4 linked regions of the Homo sapiens genome follow. The protein of the gene in region 3 interacts with the protein of the main gene of each other region in a pairwise test. Each region holds a gene or a part of one and is shown on either strand. Other genes may lie near its edges.

Region 1 (6,418 bases), on a different chromosome or scaffold from region 3:
ATGCACCACCACGCCTGGCTTTTTTTTTTTTTTTTTCTTTTGCATTTTTAGTAGAGACAGGGTTTCACGATGTTGGCCAGCCTGGTCTCGAATCCCTGACCTTGTGATTCACCCACCTCGGCCTCCCAAAGTGCTGAGATTACAGGAGTGAGCCACTACACCAGGTCATTTCTTAGTATTTTTACTCTTTTGATCTATAGTAAGTAAAATTGTTTTTATCTTTGAATTTTTAAATTTTTAACACAGTTCAAATCAGTGTGTCTGATTTCATCTCCTTCTCTAACAAACCAGGGTGCCAGAACTGCTTCAGTTTCTCTGCCTTCTCTTTGTCTATGATGACTAATGTATGAAGGTATCTGCTGCATCAAACTTTAAACTTCACATTATCCTTATTTCTCTTGACCTTGACAGATCTGGCATCTTTTCACCTGGCTGTAAGCAGAAAGTCCTTGATCTCCTTAACTTTTTGAGGCATGGCAGCATGTGAGGCAGGGAGAGGACACAGACCCACACAGCAAGTGGTGAGAAGCCAACAGTGGAATTGTTTTCTTAATTCCATTTGTTGATTGTTTATTGCTAGTGTATAGAAATACAACTGATTTTTGTATATTGATCTTGTATTCTAAAAACTTGCTCAACTTGTTTCTTAGTTCTAATAGTTAATTAATTGATTCCTTAGGGCTTTTTAATACAAGATCATGTCATCTACAAATAGAAATTGTTTTACTTTCTTTCTAATCTGGATGCCATTTATCTTTTTTTCTTGTCCAATTGCCCTCACTAGAACCTTTAGTACAAAGTTAAATAGAAATGGGAAGACTAGACATTTTGTCTTGTTCCTGATCTTAGACATAAAAACGTTGTCTTCCGTTATTATGTGTGATATTAGTTAAGTTTTTCATAAATAAACTTCACAGTTTGAGGAAGTTCCTATTCCTAGTTTGTTGAGTGTTAGCATGAAAAAGTGTTGAATTTTGTCCAATAGTTTTTAAAAATTTTTTTAGACAATCATGTAGGCTTTGTCCATTTTTTACTTCTTTAAATTTATTTTTATTGATACACAATAGATGTACACTTTTTAGGTACATGCAATAATTTAATGCCCCTCACTATAAATTCGGAGCTGCCTCCTCGCCGATGATTCCAGCGCCTGACAGCCAGGACCCCAGGCAGCAGCGAGTGACAGGACTTTTTAGGTACATGCAATAATTTAATGCATTCATATAAAGATCAAATCAGTGCAATTGGCATATCCATCACCTTAAATATTTGTCTTTTCTTCATGCTAGAAACATTCAAGTTATTTTCTCCTAGCTACTCTGAAATATACAATAGATTACTGTAAACTACAGTCACCCTACTCACCTATCTAACATTAATTGATTTTTGGTAAACTAATCTAATCTTGCTTTCTGGCATCAACCTCACTTGACCATGGTGTATAGTCCCTTTCATATGTTATTGGATTCAATTTGCCTACATTTTGTTGAGAATTTTTATCTATACTCTTAAGAAATATTGATCTGTAGTCTCGTGATGTCTTTATCTGGTTTTGTTATCAGGGTGATACTGGCCTCATAGCATGAGTTGGGAGATCATCCTTACTCTTCTATTTTTTGGAAGAGTTTGTGAAGAATTGATATTATTTCTTCTTTAAATATTTATTGGGTTTTTAAAATACATTTTTAAAATGCAACTTGGGTAGCATGTCCAATAGGAACAAATGAGTGTCCACCCTTGAATTTCATAACCCTGGAATTAATCCATGTAATCTATGATCCACAACTGTATTACCAAAGTTCGAGTTACTCATAGGAAAGAGAAAGAAGTTCTCTAATTCGTCCTTAAAAGTTTTCCAAGTTCAGAAAAAAAAAATGTTGAAGAACACGAATCTCCGCAGGAAATGATACTCCTGTACCCCCAGCTCGCTCTCCCTCACGACCCCTCGCTAGGCGGGGTTCGGGACCAGGTGAACGCTGATCTGATAGTTGACACGGGACGACTGTGGCATCATCCTTGCTGCCGTCAATATCCCGAGAGGGAGGAGGTTGGGCCGGGAGGGTCTCCCGGGGCGGGGCGGAGGAGGAGGGAATGCAAAACAGAGCCTCGTCCCCGGAACCCAAGAAGCAGCAACGCCCCTCACTATAAATTCGGAGCTGCCTCCTCGCCAATGATTCCAGCGCCTGACAGCCAGGACCCCAGGCAGCAGCGAGTGACAGGACGTCTGGACCGGCGCGCCGCTAGCAGCTCTGCCGGGCCGCGGCGGTGATCGATGGGGAGCGGCTGGAGCGGACCCAGCGAGTGAGGGCGCACAGCCGGGACGCCGAGGCGGCGGGCGGGAGACCCGCACCAGCGCAGCCGGCCCTCGGCGGGACGTGACGCAGCGCCCGGGGCGCGGGTGAGTCCGCGCGGACCGCCAGGCATGCTTGGGGGACTTCAAGGGCGGGGTGCTAAGTTTCATGTCACGGTGTCCTAACTGCTGGCTCTATACTGGGAAGCTCTCGGGGACCAAGGAAAGAGCGACCGTAGTTCTGGTCAGCGCCTGCCCCTGGAGCTGGCCACACTTTCCCAAATCAGGTGAGGGGCTTCTGGAATGGGAGGGAACAAGGTAGGTTTGTTTGCCACGTGCCTCGAAATTCTCAATCCATTTTAACCAAACTCTTCCGAGTGCAAGGAAGAAATCTACAGAAATAAGATGCAATTCAATAAACTTTCTTCCTGAGGCTTTTAGTTAACTCTTGTATTTTAGCCATCATCTGAGCGGGAAGCCGGTATGACTCTGCAAGGCGTTCGTTTAAAAGTTGTGCTACTTTTGAGGTGAAGTTAAGAGTGTCTCCATCCACGCCCTCTGCTTCCCAGTCAATGTCCCTGCACTGCTCACGTCCCTTTAGCTCTCTCCCTGCAAACCATAGCGGTGGGTCCTAGACACGGGACATCGCTCCAACCTTGGCCAAACTCTCCCACCCTCAGGGTTCCCAGATGTCCTTTGAATAATCAAACTGAGGAAGGAGAAGCAAGATGTCTCCACACCCCAATCCCTACAGCCTTAGCCAATGCATGTGTGTAACTGAGACAGAATTTTAGCAAAAGGTCTCCTGCTTCCAGGACTAAACAGAGCCTCTGGCAGGCCACTGCCCGACACCCAACTCCATCCTCCAATTTTCTTAAATGTCCAGGTAAACATCTCCATAGTGCCAGCCTGCTATAGTCTCCCGAAGACCTCAGCAATTCTTCCCCAAAGCGTCTCCTTCTGCACCGTTTTTTTCTTTGGGCAACCATTTGTGACCTGGCTATTGAGCCCACCTGGGCCTCTTCTCTTTGTTTGCTGATAGCCTCGTTAAGTATTAAAAACCTACTCCCCCCCTTCAGGAGCCCTCTTTTAATGAAAGTTTGGGTACTGGGATCAGATTTGGGACTTGGCTACATTTATTTCCTGTGTCATTCTGAGAAGAGAAAGTAATAGAGGCAAGAAATTTGGCACCCTATTGATCTATTTTATTACTTTGTTGAGCAACTTGTGCTTCCCGCTGAAGATGCTGCATCCCAACATGATTCTCTTATTATTAGTTACCACCTGAGGGTTTTGGATCTCCAGGTGTTTATTTCACATAGCATATGCTTTAACCCCCTTATAAGTCTTCTCTAAGGAAGAAACTGCCATACTTCCCTTGTCTTCTCCGGTGTTTCCCTAGCTATAAAGGCCCCACCTGCATAACCTGTCCTCAGGCTGTGATGTATTCCCGGGTGCCCTGGTACCTTCTCCTTCCTCTCCACCACCCTTCCTGACAGTGCAGGGGCAGGAAAGCATGGGGAGAAGGGAAATGGAGACTCCCACTTAACTTGCTGTGTGATAGTAAGAGCATTATTTCACAACTCTGAACCTCAAGTCTCTGCCCATAAGGTTCCCTCCAGTGATATAATTCCTTAATTTCTTTTGTTTTGGTTATTGCTTTAAAATAAAAGTCTAAGCTTAAGGCTAGGTTATAGAAACTGCCCATCATAATTGCTAGGTCTCAACATTTGCTTAAGTTTTGTGATTCTTAGTTTCAAGTCTGTTACCCACTCTCTCTCCCCGCCACCTTTTTTCCCCCTGACTTCATTGTTCTTTGTTCCCATCCTGAGGCCTTGATTTCTGGTTCTGCTCTTCTTTGACCTTAAACTGAATCAACTCTTCCATCATCCAACTCAGAATAAAATTGGTTTTCTTCCACCGGTTCCACTGATGCCAATGGAAGACTTGTCTTCCTTGCGATTTGCAAAATGTCTTTCAGTCACAGGTGCTGCGGCAATGCTGCTGTCCCACAGCATTCTAAGCTTCAGTCTTTCTCTCTCTTATCGTGGGTCAGTATTCAGAAAAGGGCAGATTTGTGGGTTGTTCAGGTTTCTCACTTTTCTTTTTCTTCTTTCTAGTTTGGGATCAGAGTTGTGTGAGTATTTGTGTATATAATTTTGTTTTGGTTTTTTGTTCCTGCTGCTACTTACGACTGCTGTTATTATTTCAATTATGACTAATTAATACTAATGACTAATTTTCCCCTATGCTAGAGGGAAAATAAGGAAGAAAAGTTTACTCTGCTACTTACCCAAAGCCCAGGTAAAATGCTTAGCTGAGAAGGAATTTAAAACTCATAGTTTAAATGCATGATGCATGTCTGCTGTCATTTTATCTGTGCTGCCACAGTGTCCTTTCAAGCAGATAACTGAGAGTTGCTGTATTTTGCTTTCGAATTTGTTACAGGGACAAAAATAGTGACCCCTCACATTTAGGTGTTTTGGCTGCTTAATGCGAGCTCCTGCCCTCTAGCCGCATGCTTATTAGTTTACCTAGCCCTTTTTCTGGTCAGTCATGACTGGAGAATGCCAAAGAGTCTCCCAAGTAGGCTACCAAATTAAGAATTGTGTTTAGAAGTTTGAAGTCAGTCCAAGTGTTGTAAAGATTAAAACGTTGTTTTGAAGATATGCTGTGTCAATAAACAAATATGGAGCCAGAGCAACACAATGTGACCAAGTGTCCAAGCCCAGCTTAGGAACACTTTTCTCCCATGTTATCTAGCAAACTGACAAATCAGCTTTCCAACACGTGATGATTGGAAAATGCTATTAGTTTCCTTCAAAATTCTCCTAATGTTTCTTTTTCAAAATTGCCTAAGATCATTGGATTATGTGGTTTGTGTTTCTTTTCACTGTAGCTGCTTGTTAAAGCAGTATACTCAATCTCTGATAAGCAACAGTAAATTTGATCGATTTGTATCCTAAATTTAGCTATCACTTTACATTTTGTTTTATTCATAATATGAACTTTAGCTTCTAAAAATCAACTTTTTAATAGCTTAATATATAAAGCCATCTTAAATCAAGGAATATCTATAGGGACTTAAGGTAATATTCAACTAAATTGGCAAGTGACTACCATTATCCTATTAAAGCTCTAAAATGCAATATTTCAATCACAGAAAAAAAATCTTATAATTTAAAGAACTATAAATTGCCAGATGTTTCCCTAGTTATTACGTTAGTGACAAATTAGACAACTGGAAATAGAAAACAGAGTATATGTTTGGAACAGTCATAAAAGGACTAGTGACTATTGCTGCTAGCTGTGGTTGTATTAACATTAAAATATTTGCTATGGGATTTTTCTTCTTATCAAAGCAGATGCTCAGATGAGGAAAAACTTTCTTGCATATGAAAATCAAAATTGTCTTCCAAAATATTTAAGTAACAAAAAATTCATTATGTAGTATAAATGCTGTATGATTACATTATTCTTATAGTTAATTTAGAAGGGTTTGAATTTGTTTTTGTTTTGTTTGTGTTTGTTTCTTCGATAGGTGCATTCTCTAACTGTCTTAAGTAGAAACAAATGTCTAGAATCTCTCAGTGATTATCAGTCTCCTTCCTATTACCAAGAATGTTTTTATTGTGTTGTTAATCTCACATGTAATTTTTTTAACATTTAAAAGTTTGGAAAATGGGTAAAAAATGAGTGTGCCTTGTTTCCTATTATTACAATGTGCCTTCCTATTTCAAGTCCCAATTCTAGATTTCCTTAAAACTTAAAATCATAGAATTAATAATCTTTCAGTTTAAGTCAACTTTTGTGTGATTTCTTGTCCACTTATACACACATAGATGCCTTCATCTTCACCAAATAATGTAGAAATTTTATTTAGTTCAATGGATTTAAGTACTCTGTATGCTTAAGTACAAAATAAGAATATTGAGAAATACACATATGATTGTGTACCTTTTTTTTTTTTTTTTTTGAGACAGAGTCTTGCTCTGTTGCCCAGGCTGGCGTGCAGTGGCATGATCTCGGCTCACTGCAACCTCTGCCTCCCAGGTTCAAATGATTTTCCTGCCTCAGCCTCCTTAGTAGCTGGGATTACAGGTGCATGCCGCCACGCCCAGCTAATTT
Region 2 (5,974 bases), on a different chromosome or scaffold from region 3:
GCGTAGTCAAGCCCTCCATAGTCTCCTCTCTGGTCTCTGTTTCCCATCTGCCTTTGCCTTTCCCTCTCCCTCCCCAGCTCACGTTCTACCATGCACTGGAATCTTTCTGAAATGTAATCTGATCTTGTTCCCCTGCTTTAAATCCTCCAATAATTCTCACCACATAGAGGATAAAATCCTAACTTTTTGTGTGTATACTGGACTTTCTCCGACTTTCCTGCCTCATCTTCCACCTCTTCCCGTCATGGATCCTATACCGCAGACATACCAAATTCCTTATATTTCTCCAAACATGATCTTTCCGGCTTCTTTCATATGTACATGTACAAAGCAATTATCTGCCTTGAACTTTGGAACAGACTCACTCCATGGCCAGTTTTCCATCAGGAGTTTTGCTGTAAGGTACCACAGTGCAGGAGAGAGAGCACTGGGCTAACTGGTGGGAGACCTGGGTCCTTGTTTCTGTTCTCCCACTAGCCCACAGCATGACCCCTGTGAAGCAGGAGAACAGGGTCTGGGGGCAGGGAACCTAAGGACTTCCTAGAACTAAATTAAACGGAAAAACCCCAACCTTCTAAGTCCAAGTAAATAGCTTTGTATTTCAGCATGGCAGGAAACATCCTCTTCATTTGCATAGGGTGTACACCCAGTAAATGACTTTGTAACTTCACTTTAGCCACTTCATATACATAGGGTGTACACCAAGTAACCAGTGGGAACCTCTAGAGGATATTTAAACCCCAGAAAATTCTGTAACCCGGCCCTTAAGCCGCTTGCTTGGCCCACTCCCACCCTGTGGAGTGTGCTTTCGTTTTCAATAAATCTCTGCTCTTGTTGCTTCATTCTTTACTTGCTTTTTTTTTTTTTTTTTTTTGAGAAGGAGTCTCACTCTGTTGCCCAGGCTAGAGTGTAGTGGCGCCATCTCCGCCCCGCGGGTTCAAGCAATTCTTCTGCCTCAGCCTCCCGAGTAGCTGGGATTACAGGCACCCGCAACAGGCCCGGCTAATTTTTATATTTTTAGTAGAGATGGGGTTTCAGCATGTTGACCAAGCTGGTCTCAAACTCCTGACCTCAGGTGATCTGCCTGCCTCGGCTTCCCAAAGTGCTGTGATTACAGGCATGAGCCACCGTGCCTGGCCTCTTTCCTTGCTTTGTTTGTGCATTTTGTCCAATTCTTTGTTCAGAACGCCAAGAACTTGGACACCCTCCACTAGTAATTCCTGTCCCACCCTCATGACCTCTGGCTGCTCCAGCTCTGGCAGCCTAGGACCCAGGGACCATGCCCTCCCAGGGGACCGCGCCCTCTCCTGACCTCACCGTCCCAGGGGGCTCTTCTGCCTGCACCTGCCTGACCCCTCTTGCCCACACTCCTCTGGGTCCCCTCCCCATTAGGCTCCTCCCTCCTCACTCATTTGTAGGATTCCTTTTCCCTCGAGGCTGCCTCCGTGCCATATTCGGATTTGACCTGAATAACAGTGCACCTTCGGGAAGTTCACAGAACGCCCTTGTGAGCGGTTGACAAAGTACCTGGTGAAGTGAGTGTCGCTGGGTGACAGCTCCCTGGCGGGGGTTCTCCTTTCACTTCGTACAGCCGTAAGTCCGTCTTCAGAAATGGTCAGCCAGGGATGGCAAGTGTCCTTGTTTAGGCGAAAGTAGCTTCCTGTGGGAGGAGGAACACACAGAAGACCCGCAGCCAATCACTTGCTTTCTCCATGTGGGCGGTGGTCACCGGTTTAGCTTCGTGTGGGATACACCTAAGCCTGGACCTGGCCTAGTAATAGGCGTCCAGTTAACAAGGATGGCAATTGACACTCATCGGGCAGTCTTGTGTGCCTAGTATCCCCTTCAATCCTCACGACGACCCTTAGAAACAGGTGTCACTATTTCCATTTTGTAGATGAGGAAACAGAGGCACAAGGTGGTTAAGAAATCAGCTGGCAAATGATAGAACTTAAACTTGAACCCCAAGCCCCTCTGATTCCAGAGGCTGTGCTCTTTACCTCTAGCTGTAATGCCTGTGTATGGATAAGAATTTCTAACCTATTTGCCAAGGGAAATAGGAATTGAAGGACTTCTTAATGATCCATTTGACTTGCAATTAGGGCAGTATGGGACACCCCTGAACTCCTTCTGGCCTGACTTGCCACGTGTCCACATCTGTGCATATTCATCAATTTCCCAGTGAAGTCATAGCAGCACTGGGTCTGCCACAGAGTGGCCACTTTGGGTCCCAGAGACTTTGTGGGCTGGGGCACAGACCTATGGTGTGGACTGTAGCTGGCTCGCTCCTCACGCTGGGGCCCCCCATATTGAGGGCTCGCACATAGATAATGTAGCTCCGCCCCGGCTGCAGCTGCACCACGGACTCGCAGGTCGGGATGCCCACAACAGACCTGTACAAGGAAGCAGAGCTGCAGTCAGAATGGGGCTAGGACACCCAGGCCCAAGCACCAGGCATCCCTTTCAAAGCTGGAAGGTTTAACTCACTCTTGCGCTCCTGTCCTCTGACCCACATTTAACAGCAGCATAGCCAGGAGTGCTGGCTCCCCCTCTGCATTCCCTCCCACAGTCTCTGGTCTGCTTTTCTCACTTCATTGCTACTTCTTGTGTTTGTGGCTGTCTCCTCTCCAAGTCCCTCATTCTGGTTTCCCAGGCACCCAGCACTGTGCTTGGCATATGGTTAACACTGCATCATGGAGTGTGCATGCAGTAGAATCCAGTGTGTCTCTGTCCGTCTGTTAGGATCATAATGTCTCTGAGGTCAGGGGCTGAGTACCGCTATTCTTAGTACAGTACTGGGCCCATAGAAGGCCGTCAATTCAGCCAGGTGCAATGGCTCATGCCTGTAATTCCAGCACTTTGGGAGGCTGAGGCGGGTGGGTCACTTGAGGTCAGGAGTTCGAGATCAGCCTAGCCAACATGGTGAAACCCCGTCTCTACTAAAAATGCAAAAATTAACCGAGTGTGGTGGCAGGTGCCTGTAATTCCAGCTACTCAGGAGGCTGAGGCAGGAGAATTGCTTGAACCTGGGAGTTGGAGGTTGCAGTGAACCGAGATCATCACGCCACTGCACTCCTGGGCGACAGAGTGAGACTGTCTCAAAAAAAAAAAAAAAAAGGTCCTTGATTTATGTTTATGAGCAAACAATTCTGACTAGAGCTGAAAGTGTTAACTGCTGTTAACCCCCTAACAGCTGCCTATTGGAAATAATCCAATGTATTTAAATTGTACTATACAGAAATATAAGCTCATAATTGCCACTGTCTATATTGCTGCGGTTGCCAACCCCATGTCAGTCCAGTGGGCAAGAGAAGTCTTTAGGATGATGCCCATTTACCAATACAACACCCTCACCCAGATGAGGCCAAGTTGTCCAGGTTATCTTCAGGCTGCAGCTCTGGGCCAGAGGGGCACTTTTACTTATGCATTCAATAAATGTTAACTAAACTCCTTAGGTTCCAGGCACTGTATAGGGAGGCCCTCAGAAAAAACAAATGTAGTTCCTGCCCTCATAGAGCTTACAGTCTAGATGGGAAGAGCAGCATTCTTCAGGCAATCACTGGAAGGAATGTAAGATGGTAACCAAGACAAGTTGATAGTGTGCTGTAGTGTATAATGGTGGGGGCAGGATGGCTTTTGAGCAGAGCTCTGAAGAATGCTGAGGAGGTAACTGGATGAAAAAGGGACAGAGGAGTCTCCTACATAGGAGAAGCATGTGCCAAGGCCCTGTGGCAGGAAGGAGCATGAAAAGTAGGAGGAACTGAAACATGACCAATGTGGTGGGATCTTGAGAGGGAGGGGAGCTGGTGTGGGAGGAGCTGGAGAGGCAGGAAGGGGCCAGAGCCTGTGAAGGAGTTTTGCCTTTTCTTCAGCAATGGGTCGCCATGATTGGATTTGTACTGGAAGAATATGCACCAGCTCTCAGGTCATCTCTCAGGTTACTGACCAGCCCTCTGATGACCTCATCATTGTGAGTTGGTCCCAGGTGTCAAGTGCTCCTAAAGTATCAGCATAAATTGCAAAGGAAACCTGAACCATTAGGATGGCCAGAACCACTGGACACACTGCCCCACTCCTGAGTATCTCCAGAGTGGATTACCAAAGTCAGCCTCTGTGTGGCCATGGACACACAGATTCCACCTGGAACAGATGGATGGGTGGCATATGGCCACGTTTCAAGCCTGGCATTTAGCATAGAAGAATCTGCTTCCCTAACAATTGACACCAACACCTCTTCATTTCTCCAGCTCCAGGTCAGTGCACCCCTGTGTTCCACAGCAGGGGAGCCCCTGGTCCTGGTGGCTGGTGCTGGCCTGCCTGGGTGGTTCATCCCCTTTCACAAACTTCTGTAAACCAGAGGTAAACCTATGCTTCCTCCATCATAGGCTGCTGTAAACTCATAGGTTCTGCGAGCCCTTGTGGTCACTGAGTCCAACCCTTATCAATTTGTGAACCCCTCTAGCTCTCTGAGAATGAGGGGTGAACATGAGCTTCCAGACAGTCTTCTGTGATAGATGAAACATTCTTTGTACATTCAGCTGCAATCTCTTTTGTTTTCGCCTATGGCTTTCACCCTCACCTCTCTGAATTCTAGCTAGGTGGGTCTTTTAGTTCCTCCAGCAGCTCACTCCTGCCCCAGGGCCTGTGTTCATGCAGCCCCCTCCCCCCGAAGCACCCCTGCATTCGCTGTTCTTGGGGCTCAGTCTTTCCCATATGTTCAGGTCTCAGTTTAAACATCTTCTTTATCCAAAGTGGATCCTCACCTCCACCACCATTCTCTGTTTTATTACATTTCTTTTTCCTTCCTAGCACTGTATATTTTACACATTGGTTTGTTTTCTTGCCTTTTGTCTATTTTCCCACCAGACTGTCAGCCCCATTAGGGCAGGAAATTTGTCCATCTAGTTCCCAGTGCCTTGCACAGGACCTGACACCACCCAGGCACTCAATGCATGTTGAATGAATGAATGAATGAATGAATGAATGGGAAACCTTACTTGAGCTAAAACAACAACCACAACAACAACAAAACCTGAGGTTCAACCAACTTATTCATTCACTTGTCATTCACCTTCAGTAATAGCATTCCAGCTACTTCTCATGAACACTAAGCAACCAAAAATTGAGATTCCTGTGTATCAAAAATGCCAACCTTCTCTTCAGACTCCGTATACTTCCTAAGCCATGTCACTGTATCAGGTGTCAGGGCTCTCGTGCCCAGCAAATGCCCTCATGACTCACTCAGTTACACCCGAGGCTTCTGGACTTTCAGCCTGGGTCAGCTCCACAGTGTACGAGTCCACAGGATTCAGGTTCCCAGACTCCCAGCAAATCAGCACAGCCTCTTCACAGCTCCTTATCTCTTTGGTTTTAATAATGGGGGGAGAAGGTGCTAAATGTGGGAGAAAGGGAGAGATGAACAACTGTTGTGTTCATTTCCAGCTGTTTTGTTCAGAGCCATGGACAAACATCACAGCCACCTTCTTCCTCCCACAAAAGAGATTCAGTGCAATAAAAAGCAAACCAGGGAATCCCTTCCAGATGTTCCTGGAATAGAAGATGCTTGCAAGGTTTAAATGTCAGTGTGACCGAGAGTAGCAGTTTTTTATATTTTGAGACCAACCATCAGAAAATGTCACTGTCACTGTCGGCTGAGTGCAGTGGCTCACGCCTGTGATCCCAGCACTTTGGGAGGCCGAGGCGGGTGGATCACTTGAGGTCAGGAGTTCGAGACCAACCTGGCCAACATGGCGAAATGCCATCTCTTCTAAAAATACAAAAAAAAAAAAAATCAGATGTGGTGGCAGACACCTGTAATCCCAGCTACTTGGGAGGGTGAGGCAGGAGAATCACTTGAACCTAGGCGGCAGAGGTTGCAGTGAGCAGAGATCTTGCCACTACACTCCAGCCTGGGCGGGACTCATCTCAAAAAAAAAAAATGTCACTGTCAAACTAGGCATGTAGATTTTGTGTG
Region 3 (5,974 bases):
AAGAAAGGTAGAATATTGTATCACAACTCTTTCACCACACCAAAGAAAATAAAAGTAAGAACAAAATATTATGTTTTCAATTGTGTCCCTGACAGCTATCCACGTAAAAGCCACAGCAACCCTTCTTGGCATCAATATGAATCCTCCCCTTGAAGTATTTTAATTTCATCCTTGCTGAAACACAAAGGATCCTCAAAGTACCTGGATCTGTTCCAAGACATCTCGCTGCATCTCCACTGCCATGTGATAGACATCATGGTCTGAGCTATTGTACATTACAGCATTCTGAAACATCAGCATAATGTCACGCTGAAATTCAGCTGTGCTTCGGATCAGTCCATTTTCTATGTTTTTCTTAATAGTTGACAAATCCATAGGCCTAAAAAAAAAGAACAGGGGTAAGTAGCAGTGGGGATGGAAAGAGGACGCACCTAGATCTATGAATACATTATCATATAGACTTTCTCATATATACCTTAACTCCCAGCTGCCAGGACTTAAATGCTAACCCCTTATCCCAAAACATGCACTTAACCCAAGAAACAATCTATATAATAAGCATTGAGAAAGGTAATAAAGGGAGTTTATTTAGGTTTTTTTTGGAGACAGGGCCTGGATCTGTCACTCAGGCTGTAGTGCAGTGGCACAATCATGGTTCACTGCAGCCTCGAACTTCCAGGCTCAAGCAATCCTTGGTTCACTGCAGCCTCGAACTTCCAGGCTCAAGCAATCCTTCCCACCTCAGCCTCCCAGGTAGTTGGGACTACAAATGCGCGACACCACACCTGGCTAAGTCTTGTATTTTCTGTAGAGAGGGGGTTTCGCCATGTTGCCCAGGCTAGTCTTGAATTCCTGGGCTCAAGTGATTCACCCACCTCAGCACCCCCAAAGATTACAGGCGTGAGCCACCGCTCCTGGTGGAGATTTATTCTTTTAGACTATCAGTGGTGATCTAGCCACTGGAATTATCAGTTTAGCACTCAGTGCCCCTTATAGCAAAACCATAAACTTACTTGCTTTAAACTTTCTATCGAAAGCAAAACTTCACTAAGACTGGACAATTTATAATTCAGGCAAGTTACCATGCTGGGTGGACCATGGCTCACCTCTGCACAATGCTGTGGTAGCCAGGTGCTATGTCATCTGTAACAGGCTGCAGGAAGACATTGGCATACCTGTCCAAAAGGAATAAGGTGCAATTACTGACATTCTCCAGAAGTGCAGGGAGGGAACTTACTCTAAGTAACTAAAGGTAGTAAGAACTAATACCAGCAGTTCCACAGAAGCCTACTCAGACTTTTTTCCAGTCACCAACAATGAAGAGTAGGAGAAAATGAACCTACTGACTGGTAAAGCCCACTCACCTATGATTAGCTGCAGCTCTCCATACAAGCATGATGGCTTTCTTCCAAATTTTCTGTGCCTGAATAGCTTCCTGATCCTCACTACAGACAGAGCTGAAACAGAGATACAGCAATTCCACTAGGCACAAGTTAAAAAATAAAAATTATAATTCTCTTTTCTTTTTGAGACAGGGTCTCACTCTGTCCCCCAGGCTGGAGTGCAGTGGCATGATCATGTTCATTGCACCCTCAACCTCCCAGACTCAATCCTCTCACCTCAGCCTCCCAAGTAGCTGGGACTATAGGTGCATACCACCATGCCCAGCTAATTTTTTAATTTTTTTGTAGAGATAGGGTCTCACTGTGTTGCCCAGGCTGGTCTCGAACTCCTGGGTTCCAGCGATCCTCCTGCCTTAGCCTCCCAAAGTGCTGGGATTACAGGTGTGAGCCACTATGCCCAGCCCTAATTATTTCTTGTCAGCTGTTTATTCCAGGTCAAAAAAGGGAAACACTAAAGAAAAGATCAGGCCAGGCATGGTGGCTCATGCCTCTAATTCTACTGCTTTGGGAGGTCAAGGCAAGAAGACTGCTTGAGGTCAGGAGTTCAAGACCAGACTGGACCACATAGATCCTGTCCCTTAAAAAAATTTTTTTAAAATAAAAATTTAAAAATAAAGAAAAAGGCCAGGCATGGTGTCTCACGCCTGTAATCTCAGCACTTTGGGAGGCCGAGGCAGGTGGAACGCTTGAGCTCAGGAGTTTGAGACCAGCCTGGGCAATGTAGCAAAACTTGGTTTCTACTAAAAAAATTTTTTTTAATTAGCAGGGTGTGGTGGCACAGGCTGGTAGTCCCAGCTACTAAGGAGGCTGAGGTGGAAGGATTGCTTGGGCCTGAGAAGTGGAGGTTGCAGTGAGCTGAGATCGCACCACTGCCCTCCAGCATGGGTGAGTGAGAACAAGAAAAAAGAGAAGGAAAGGAAAGGAAAGGAAAGGGAAAAGAAAAGAAAAGAGAAAAGACAGGAAGGAAGGAAGGAAGGAAAAGATCCTCTCCTCACCTTCACTGCCTTGGCCTCAAAGAAAGAATCTCAGATACTCACAACTGTGAAGAAGCAGGGCTGCTGGGGATGGAGTCTGCCAGTGTGTGTGACTGCAGTGTAGCATTGTGTATGCTGAAGCCATCATCACTCTCGCTCACAGGAGGTTCATTATCCATTTCTGACAAGTAGCCTTCTCCTTGATCCTCTTCCTTAGGCTCCTCTAGGCTGGCCGCTTCACTGACACCATCTTCCTCCTCATCCTCACCTGGGGCATCCTTAGATACAGTATGCTCCAGTTAACAAATGCAAGCAAAGCTATCCAGCAAAGCATCATTAAACATGATCTGTCTTTTGGGTTAGAATTAGTTCTAGAAATGACCTCACGCTGTTTCCTGACTCAGCTGTCTATCACTTATACTACCATCTACTTACAGACACTGCGTTAAGTAATTTAGAACCTGGACAAAGAATAATACCCAGGATCTTTTAAAAAGAAAGAAAAAAAAAAGCTACTTACTTAAGACTAAGCTAAGAGGCGTTCCTTCTTTCCCCTTGCTCGAGAGTAACTCTGACCCTGGGTACAAAGTTATCAAAAATAATTTTTATTTTGTGTCTCATTTGATGGAGCAAGCTCACATCACATTCTTTAAGCCTCTGTTACTGCTGCTTTAATAATTCTAAAAAGAAAACTCTGGATGATTCTCTTTGGATAGTCTAATTAATAAACTTGATTCCTGTATGTTCTCCTTGGCTCAGGTATCCTTATTCACTACAAATCACTCTAAGTGTATCAAGCCTTCTTAAGGACTGTGTGATATTCACATGCTGTTTCATATGGGAGGCACCTGTTGCTATAGTACTCCCATTATGCCTGTCTACTGCAGCTTTTCCCCATGCAACTCCATACCAGTCTCTTATCAGAGAATAAAGATGTGACTTTACTGAAATTCATTAAAAAGTAGTGCTATAGGGAAATCTAATCACATGGCAAGAGGAATAAAGAAAAGTCTGAAATACCTTTATCTGGCTTCCAAAAATAGTCCCTGATTCTTCTTTCAATGAGTCTGCAGAGGAGAGAAAGACTACCTGAAGATTTTTCCACCTTAGCCTTCCCCTTCCTATGGACCATAATCCCCTGCAGCTCTCCTTTACATGCTGACCTGTTCTACCTCCTCTACTTGCCCACAACCCACAACCCCTCAGAAGCCAAAGCAAATGATTTCAAGTCAGTGAAAGAGGACTTTATTTACCTGACATTTCAAACTTGTGCTGAGTCTCTGCCTCTAAAGGATCTTCAATGGGATTTGAGCCATGTGATGGAGACAACATGCTTTCAGGGGATGCCTGAAAACCAGAAAAGAAAAAACACCCTAAGTACTGATAAATCGCTATAGCTCACACAACTTTATTCTTCAGTGATAATGAGACCATAGAAGAAATTCTAAGTCCTACTCATGTAATGTGACTCCAATGGTCACCTTAACAGGAATAAGTATATATAACACTAATCACAGCCTATGGGCTTTGGACACATCAAACATGTCAGAACTCAGGAATGCAACTGGAAAACCAAAAAGCCTAAGCTGTCACTTCTTATCTAAGGTATAAACCTCCATCTCCCCAGCCCCGATCTTTCTTAAGTACCTCTGTCTTCACATTTGTAAGTGGAGTCTCATCGCCTTTCCCAATGGCAACATCTGCTTCAACAATCTCTCCAGCTGCAGTACTTCCCAGTTCCTCATCTAAGTCCTGACTCCTGAGTTCTGGTGGCTCCATACTTGTGGCTGGAACAACTCCAGCTACTATTTCGGCTCCTGAAATGACTGGCTCTGGTTCTGCAGGTTCCACCTTGATCTCTGCACTGGGCTCCCTGATGTCCACCAGTTCATGTATTCCCTTGTTTTCCGTTTCCTCAAAGTCCAGTCTCTCTTGCTTGACCGTCATTTCTGGTGCAGGGAGAGGTACTGGCTTGTCCCGCTCCTGCTGGATAGGATGCTCCCAGGGGCCAGGCAGGGACTGAGGATCATCATTTTCTTCACAAAATGACAGTGCTGCTTCCACTGCTGCCACATCCAGCACTTCAGGATGATCATCTACCTGTCCCACAAAACACAAGACTATTGAGGTCACAGAAAGAAGCCCAAGTCCTTCAATTTTTGTTAGCACCAAATGTGATGGCTTGAATCTGCAGCTTTTCGCTCCATTTTTTCCATGTAGTGGAGGCAAACAATGAAGAGGCACCTGTCCTGTGCAAACCAGTAACATGGGTAGACCTGAGGAGATGACTAGTATGTTAGCACCAAAGGGCTACAAAGATGGAGATGGGCAGAAGTAGGAGAGTTGTTTAAGTAATTCTTACTGTAAGAAGCAAAGCAGCCGAGTATGGTGGCTCATGCCTGTAATCTCAGCACTTTGGGAGGCCGAGGTGGGTGGATCACTTGAGGCCAGGAGTTTGAGACCAGCCTGGCCAACATGGTAAAACTCATCTCTACTAAAAATACAAAAAATTAGTGAGGCGTGGTGGCATGTGCCTGTAGTCCCAGCTACTCAGGAGGCTGAGGCACAAGAATTACTTGAGGCTGGGAGGCAGAGGTAACAGTAAGCCAAGATCGTGCCACTGCACTTCAGCCTGGATGAAAGAGCAAGACTCTGTCTCCAAAAAAAAAAAAAAAAAAGCAGCAGCAGCACCAAAGTGAGGCTGAAAAGAGAAGCCTATGTAGGACCCATGAGATTCTCTGGGGCTTCGCTGAATAGTTACCTTGTCCTCAATGATGGCAATGATGTCTCCAACAGTCTCAAAATCCAGCTCTTCACCTGTGTAAGACACAGCAATATCCATCTTCTCAGCCAGATCTAATTCTTCCTTCCCATCTATGCTGGGAGCCTTTGATCCAACAGGAGCCTCTGCTACCCCTGATCGAAAACACTCTTCTTTGATAGAATTGATGATCATGGATATTTCACTGCTGTCCATGGAAACAGTCACAGTATGTGGATCCCCCACAGCCTCCATGGGAACACAGTTGTCGGGTTGACTCACTGAGTAACAGAAAGAGAAAAGCATCTCAGAAGCTTATTGGGTACAAAGCGACCACCTTGAGATCACATAAGCGCTACAGACAGATGTCAAATATCCAAACACTTAAGGTCAGAAAGAGTCATCAACATGTGCCTATGTTTTCTTCTCCCCAGTTTTATCTAGAAAGGTGAGAACATATTTTCAAGCCTGCTCATATCTGTATACTTAGCCTCTTCCTGCAATACATAAATGCCCACCCACCTCTTCTCACATCTATTTCTAAGGATATTTATTTCTAAGGATAAAGATGGCACATGTCTATGTAGAACAGAGAAGAAGCATCTGAATCGGAGCTGATGCTCTTGGTCATTTTTCTCTAACTAAAGCTCAAAATGAAATTTTAGATCTAGTGGCTGCTCAGGGACGCACCTGGAGCTACACTTTCAGTAGTGGAGACAGCCGGAGCAGAGGATGGTGCTGGCAGCGCAGGCATCATGACAATGGTAGCTTGGGACACAGACTCTACAGGGGGTGGCACAAGTTTAACTGGAGGCTCACTGGCAACAGTAGTGAAG
Region 4 (5,974 bases), on a different chromosome or scaffold from region 3:
TCTGTCACTACTCACCTCTGCCATTGTAAAACGGAAGCACCTATAGACAATACTAACTGAATAACCTGTGTTCCAATAAACTCGTATTCACAAATGGGTGCCCGCCCCATGGGCCATAGTTTACCAAACTCTGCTCTAGTGGAAGGTAATACTGCTTGGCTTAATAAAAAAAAAGTCTCTAAAGTTAGATGACAACCCATGTAATTGTTTCTTCATTCTAGTTACCTCTCAACTCAGGTTCCACACACTTGAATATACCCTCCCCCAAAGCCTATTCATGTCTCCTTAAAACCTGGCTTAGAATCCAGTGTCTCCCAAACGCCTTGTTGAACTGACCCATCCAAATTTACCATTCTATAAATATACTAAAATTACCATTCCAACACATAGCAAAATGATAACTAGAGATTTAAATCTAGTAGTGATCACAGTAGTAAAACATACACCACAAACGATTTTTATTACAAAAGTATTCTAACTCCTACTCAGTATGTGAAACACTTGTAATCACTAAATATCCATTCCTGCTATCAAGCAAAAGGGAGCTACCCAAGACTCACAGATTATAGACTACATCATTGTTTACTTACAGATACTGAGACACTGTTAATTATTACAGCAACATATGGAACAAAGAACAAAATGGATCACCATCTGATTAAGTCATGAATTCTCACTGATGATGTGATTAGCTGGATAGTATGCCACTGATTACATATTAAGTGTCTACGGGCTTTTATAAGCTTCTATATTTTAGTTTTATAGTAGAAATAGTCTCGCTATGTTGCCCAGGCTGGTCTCGAACTCCTAGCCTCAAGCAATCCTCCACCTTGGCCTCCCAAATGTGAGATTACTGGCAGGAGTCACCATACCCAGCCAGCTTGTTTAAATGTTTATATGAGAAATAAAAAGCATGTCGGTAAATCCCACTTAAATTACTCACAGTGAACAGGTAAACCTCCATGCTATATATCAAACCTCATTACCATTATAAGACCGCCTCACACCATTACCAAGACTGCAAACTAATATCTAATGTCATCAGCCAAGAAAGGACACTCAGAGAAACCAGAGGCTTGAACTCCCCAAATCCACTGAGCCATGAATAAGACTGTTTTATCCCGAGTTATCAAAATCAACCTAAACACCACCAAAAATAGGAACAAACCCATTCACACTTCTAGAATCATCTTGTGGAGCAATGAAGAGATGGTAGCTAGTATTAAGGCAGCAACTTTCCGCTTTCACAGTTGGCAAGAATTTGGCCAGCATTCACCCCTTTCATTGAACAGTAACATTGAGAAGGCAGTGCCAATAATCGTAAGGTGATGTTAGACAAGGAATAATCCGATTGTTAAGATCCTCAACAAAGGACAAAGTCAGACTTAACAGAGAAAACAGCACTGGCACCTTCACAACATATTTCTAAAGCCCACAGTGCTCTTGCTGACCATCAGCAGAAAGGCTCAGGCAGGTATCAAAAAATTCACAAGCATCCCAAAGCAACACGGGAGTGTGCAGCACACAACCCTAGTGAAGTCCAAGACAACTGAAGGCAGTCTAATCGATGGGTTTAGGTGATACAAACAGTATTAATAACTCTGGATCAAAGAGAGTGAATTCTCTATCAATCCTGATTAGAAAAAAGAAGAAAGTCTCGGTTTGGTGCTAGACTGTCTTTGACACTTGTCTCATAGTCGCAAATCTTTTAATAGTAACAGAACAGACCTCAGGCAGAGAACCAGCCAGGCAACAACATCTCAGCTAGAACTAATAACATTTGTTTTCACTGTAATTATCTTCAGAGTTACTTTCTAGTTATGGCAAGTATGTATTTATGATAGTAAAAACAATCCTTTTAAGACAAATTTAAATAAAAATTTTGAGTTGATTTAATTTTAAAAATTTAGTATGTAATAGCACAGTTGGTACCTGGTACACAAATAGGACAAAAATGATGGTGATATCAAAATGGCTAGAGCTAGAGCTAGAAAGTGGAGAAGAAAGAGCACTTCGAAGGCAGTAAGGAAGGGTAACAAGCATCATCCTAGCTCTTACTGCTAATTAGTCCTGTGACCTTAGCAAAGTTCTAGCCTCCCTGGGCCTAACTTTCTTCAACTACCAAATGAGAAATGATCTGAGGTGGGTTTTCCAAATTTTTATGGCCTGCATGCCGGCACCACAATTTCTGTCACATCCACAAACCATCTGTACTATTACTAATTTATCTTAAATGGAGAAACTTTTTTTCTTTTTTTTTTTTTTTCACTTTTATGGAAGAGATACATAGGGCAAAGGTTACAGAAGGGGGACACAGAGCTTCCAAGACCTTTCTAGGTACACCACCCTCCCGGCATCTCATATTCACCAATCTGGAAGTTCTCTAAAACCCATGGGTTTTTTGGAGGTTTTATAACACAGGCATGATTAATTACACCATTGCTGATAATCTCTAGCCCCTCTGCCCTCGATGGAGGTAGGAGAAGAGGTTGGGGTAGGGCCAAAACTTCCAACCCTCTAATCATGCCTTGGTCCTTCTGGCCCCCAATCCTGAAGCTACATAGAAGCCCCCCAGCCACAGTCACCTCATTAGGATTAAAAACGACATTATTATCACTCCAGAGATTCCAAGCATCTTAGAAGCTCTTCTGTCAGAACTGGGGACTAAGACCAAACATGGTAACAAAAGATACCCTTATCACCCCATCACTCAAGAAATCGAAAGGGTTTTAGGAGCGACTAAGTATTGAATGTTTCTGTCCCCTACCACATGTATAAGTTGAAATGGTAGCTCCTAATGTGATGGTATTGGGAGGAGGGGTCATCAGGAGGTATTTGGTCATAAGTGCACAGAGTAATTTTTTTTAAATTGAAATATACTTTATTTGATAGGATACTCTAGCATCACTAAAAATGAAAAGCCAGTATTTTTAATACACATTAAAATATACACATAATTAATTTTTGTTTAACTGTGTACCACCTAAAGTTATTTCATACGCAAGTGTAAGATACAGTTTACATTTGCAGCAACAATTATATAGGGCAGCGCTTCCCACTCAGTTTGCTCAGGCGTCACTATGGCACATGGGTGGCAGGTATGGCAAGATATTTGTCCCCTCTACCCTTAAAGTGGCCACACAGGGCTTCAGATTGCTGGAGCTCCTGTGTTGTTTGCTCTTGCCACAAACAGCCTTGTCTGTTTACCCCAATAGGCTGTGTGTGTGACAGCAGCATTTTATGTGTGTGCCATAACATGAGAAAGTTGGGCAGCATTAGCCTAAGGCACCCTTTAACATTGAGATTTTATAATATAGGTATTTCCTTTTCTTCTTTTTTTTTTTTTTTTTTTTTTTTTTTGAGACGGAGTCTTTCTCTGTTGCCCAGGCTGCAGTGCACTGGCGATCTTGGCTCACTGCAACCTCCACCTCCGTAGTTCTAGTGATTCTCCTGTCTCAGCCTCTTGAGTAGGTGGGATTACAGGCCCGCACCACCATGCCCGGCTAATTTGTGTATTTTTAGTGGAGACGGGGTTTTGCCATGTTGGCCAGGCTGGTCTCGAATTCCTGACCCCCCGGTGATCTGCCCACCTTGGCCTCCGAAAGTGCTGGGATTACAGGCGTGAGCCACCGTGCCCGACCTTCTTTTTCTATTTTTATTTTTGATTTTCTTCAGCACCAAGCCCAAAGATCCAAAAAGGGAATGTCAGCATATGCTTTTAGAAATCTAGAAACTCTAACTTTTCAATATCTAAAGGTGACCACAACCACTCAAGAACTAACATATTCCTTTCTAAAACAGGATATAGAAAAAGCAAAAAAAAGAACTGATATATGCGAACGACTGATTTTTTTACTATCATGAAAAGTTTTATCCCAAGTAATCTTACTACTAGTAATGACCTTTTAAAGATTTTTATTAAAGAAAATTCTCTAACATATTCATATAAATACAGTTTTACTCACCAACCATTTTCCTTTTCACGTTTGGATAGCTTCTGTTCCTTATCCACAGAAACATTACAGGAAACACCTAGAAACAGAGAAAGTAACAATAATTTATTAATGTAGTTCGTTATAACATACCTGCAGACAGAGAGTTTCTAATCCAACTTTTTAGAACTCGGAGGACAAAAAATAAGCCCAAAGTCAAACACACAAAAGAGCGGTTTAAAACTAAATGTACTGGGGTCTTCTGGGAAAAGATAGCAGAATAAGAGTTATTTCCAACCAGGCGCAGGGACTCACACCTGTCATCCCAACCCTTTGGGAGGCCAAGGTGAGAGAATGGCTTGGGGCCAGGAGTTCGAGGTCAGCCTGGACAACATAACGAGACTCCATCTCTAAAAAAAAATTTTTAAATAAAAATTTAAGAAAAATTTTAAAAGGTTATTTCCTCCCTTTCCCTGAAAACCACTAACATTAATAGAATGGCTAAAATTAGAGGGGAAAATTCATTCCACAGTAAACTTGGAACAAGTAGAACCTCAAATCACACACTGCAAAGAATTATCTGCCAGATAGTGAAATTGGGTTCCAAACCTAGGAAGATGCAAACAGCCAACACATATATCTCCAGATTTCAAACACAGGGCCCATTTCTCTAAAAGTAACTGAGAGGGTCCTCAGGATCCCAGCCACACATCTTTTACTTGAACAATGACTTGGACAGAGGTCACTGCTGGACTTCAGAGGCAGCAGCAAACATTCCCAAAGAATCCAGCTCTAGGAAACACTAAAGGACAGGGTAGAGGGTGAAGAGAAATGAAGAAGGGACATCTGACCTAAAATGGCCAAAACAGACTCTTGATTTCACGGCCTCCTACAGTCTACCTTAACTCGGTAAACTCCAACTCCATCTACCTGCTTGCTGAAATCAGAAACCAGGGTGTCATCCTTGATTCTTTGTCTCCTCATCCTGCTCCCCTGTATCTACTCCACTGATCCATCCCATCAATTCTACCTCACAAACTTCACTCCAGCCCCCAAACCACCAGCACCACCTCTTGCCTGGACTACTGCCCTGGCTCTTCACTAACCTCCCCACTTCCATACTTGTTCCTCCTTCAATGCTTTCTCCAAAGAAAATGCGGGGTCACATTACTCCCCTGCCTAAGCTAGCATAATAACGTACTCACTAGAACAGATTACTACTCTTTAGAACAGACTACAACGCCTTGCAGTTTCTGATCTCTTCCTTCCTCCCTAAATCTTATCTTTATTCTCTTTAACCAGTCTCAAGGCTTTTGCACCAGCTGCTCAGCACCTGTCAAAAGCAAAGAGCGTGACCAAGAACTGTACCTGCAGCCAAGCTAGCATTCACTTATAAATACAGGAAAATAATCCCAGCACTTTGGGAGGCCGAGGCAGGCGGATCATGAGGTCAGGAGATCGAGACCATCCTGGCTAACATGGTGAAACCCCGTCTCTACTAAAGATACAAAAAAATTAGCGGGGTGTGGTGGCGGGAGCCTGCAGTCCCAGCTACTCAGGAGGCTGAGGCAGGAGAATAGCGTGAACCCGGGAGGTGGAGCTTGCAGTGAGCTGAGACTGCACCACTGCACTCCAGCCTGGGCAACACAGTGAGACTCTGTCTCAAAAAAAAAAAAAAAAAAAAAAAAAAGGAAAATATTTTCTAGCACATAAACTTGAAATTTTCTTGGAGATGTGGACGTGGGGAGCACTAATGATTAATCAAACAATTCAGGAATGAAAAAGCTATTAAGAAGCTTTTTTATGTTAATGAGTACTGGAGTTGGGAAAACAATTTATATAAACTTTATAGGATTGGGTGCTGTAACTCACATCTGTACTCCCAGCACTTTAGGAGGCCGAAGCAGGGGATTGCTTGGGGCCAGGAGTTTGAGATCAGCCTGAGCAACATAGCAAGACTCTGTCTCTACAAAAAATTTAAAGATTAGCCAGGTGTTAGTGTGTATCTGTAGTCCCAAGCTACTTGGGAAGCTGAGCCGGGA

The links.
Region 1: the proteins of BRD8 (region 3) and AGTR1 interact in a two-hybrid assay, tested with the Homo sapiens proteins (one large-scale study listed by BioGRID and IntAct).
Region 2: the proteins of BRD8 (region 3) and FSD2 interact in binary tests that used the Homo sapiens proteins (3 or more experiments, as listed by UniProt).
Region 4: the proteins of BRD8 (region 3) and MIS18A interact in binary tests that used the Homo sapiens proteins (3 or more experiments, as listed by UniProt).

What each region holds. Positions count from the first base shown.
Region 1 is NC_000003.12:148,695,730-148,702,147, forward strand, and holds the start of AGTR1 (type-1 angiotensin II receptor), read left to right. Parts: upstream 1-2,173; 5' UTR 2,174-2,398; exon of another isoform or gene 2,399-2,420; intron 2,421-6,418. UniProt on the Homo sapiens protein: Receptor for angiotensin II, a vasoconstricting peptide, which acts as a key regulator of blood pressure and sodium retention by the kidney.
Region 2 is NC_000015.10:82,763,639-82,769,612, forward strand, and holds part of FSD2 (fibronectin type III and SPRY domain-containing protein 2), read right to left. Parts: intron 5,393-5,974; coding exon 5,242-5,392; intron 2,394-5,241; coding exon 2,260-2,393; intron 1,661-2,259; coding exon 1,528-1,660; intron 1-1,527.
Region 3 is NC_000005.10:138,160,690-138,166,663, forward strand, and holds part of BRD8 (bromodomain-containing protein 8), read right to left. Parts: coding exon 5,829-5,974; intron 5,420-5,828; coding exon 5,139-5,419; intron 4,478-5,138; coding exon 4,025-4,477; intron 3,725-4,024; coding exon 3,631-3,724; intron 3,445-3,630; coding exon 3,398-3,444; intron 2,656-3,397; coding exon 2,441-2,655; intron 1,458-2,440; coding exon 1,365-1,457; intron 1,176-1,364; coding exon 1,107-1,175; intron 380-1,106; coding exon 202-379; intron 1-201. UniProt on the Homo sapiens protein: May act as a coactivator during transcriptional activation by hormone-activated nuclear receptors (NR). Isoform 2 stimulates transcriptional activation by AR/DHTR, ESR1/NR3A1, RXRA/NR2B1 and THRB/ERBA2.
Region 4 is NC_000021.9:32,270,865-32,276,838, forward strand, and holds part of MIS18A (protein Mis18-alpha), read right to left. Parts: intron 4,033-5,974; coding exon 3,966-4,032; intron 1-3,965. UniProt on the Homo sapiens protein: Required for recruitment of CENPA to centromeres and normal chromosome segregation during mitosis.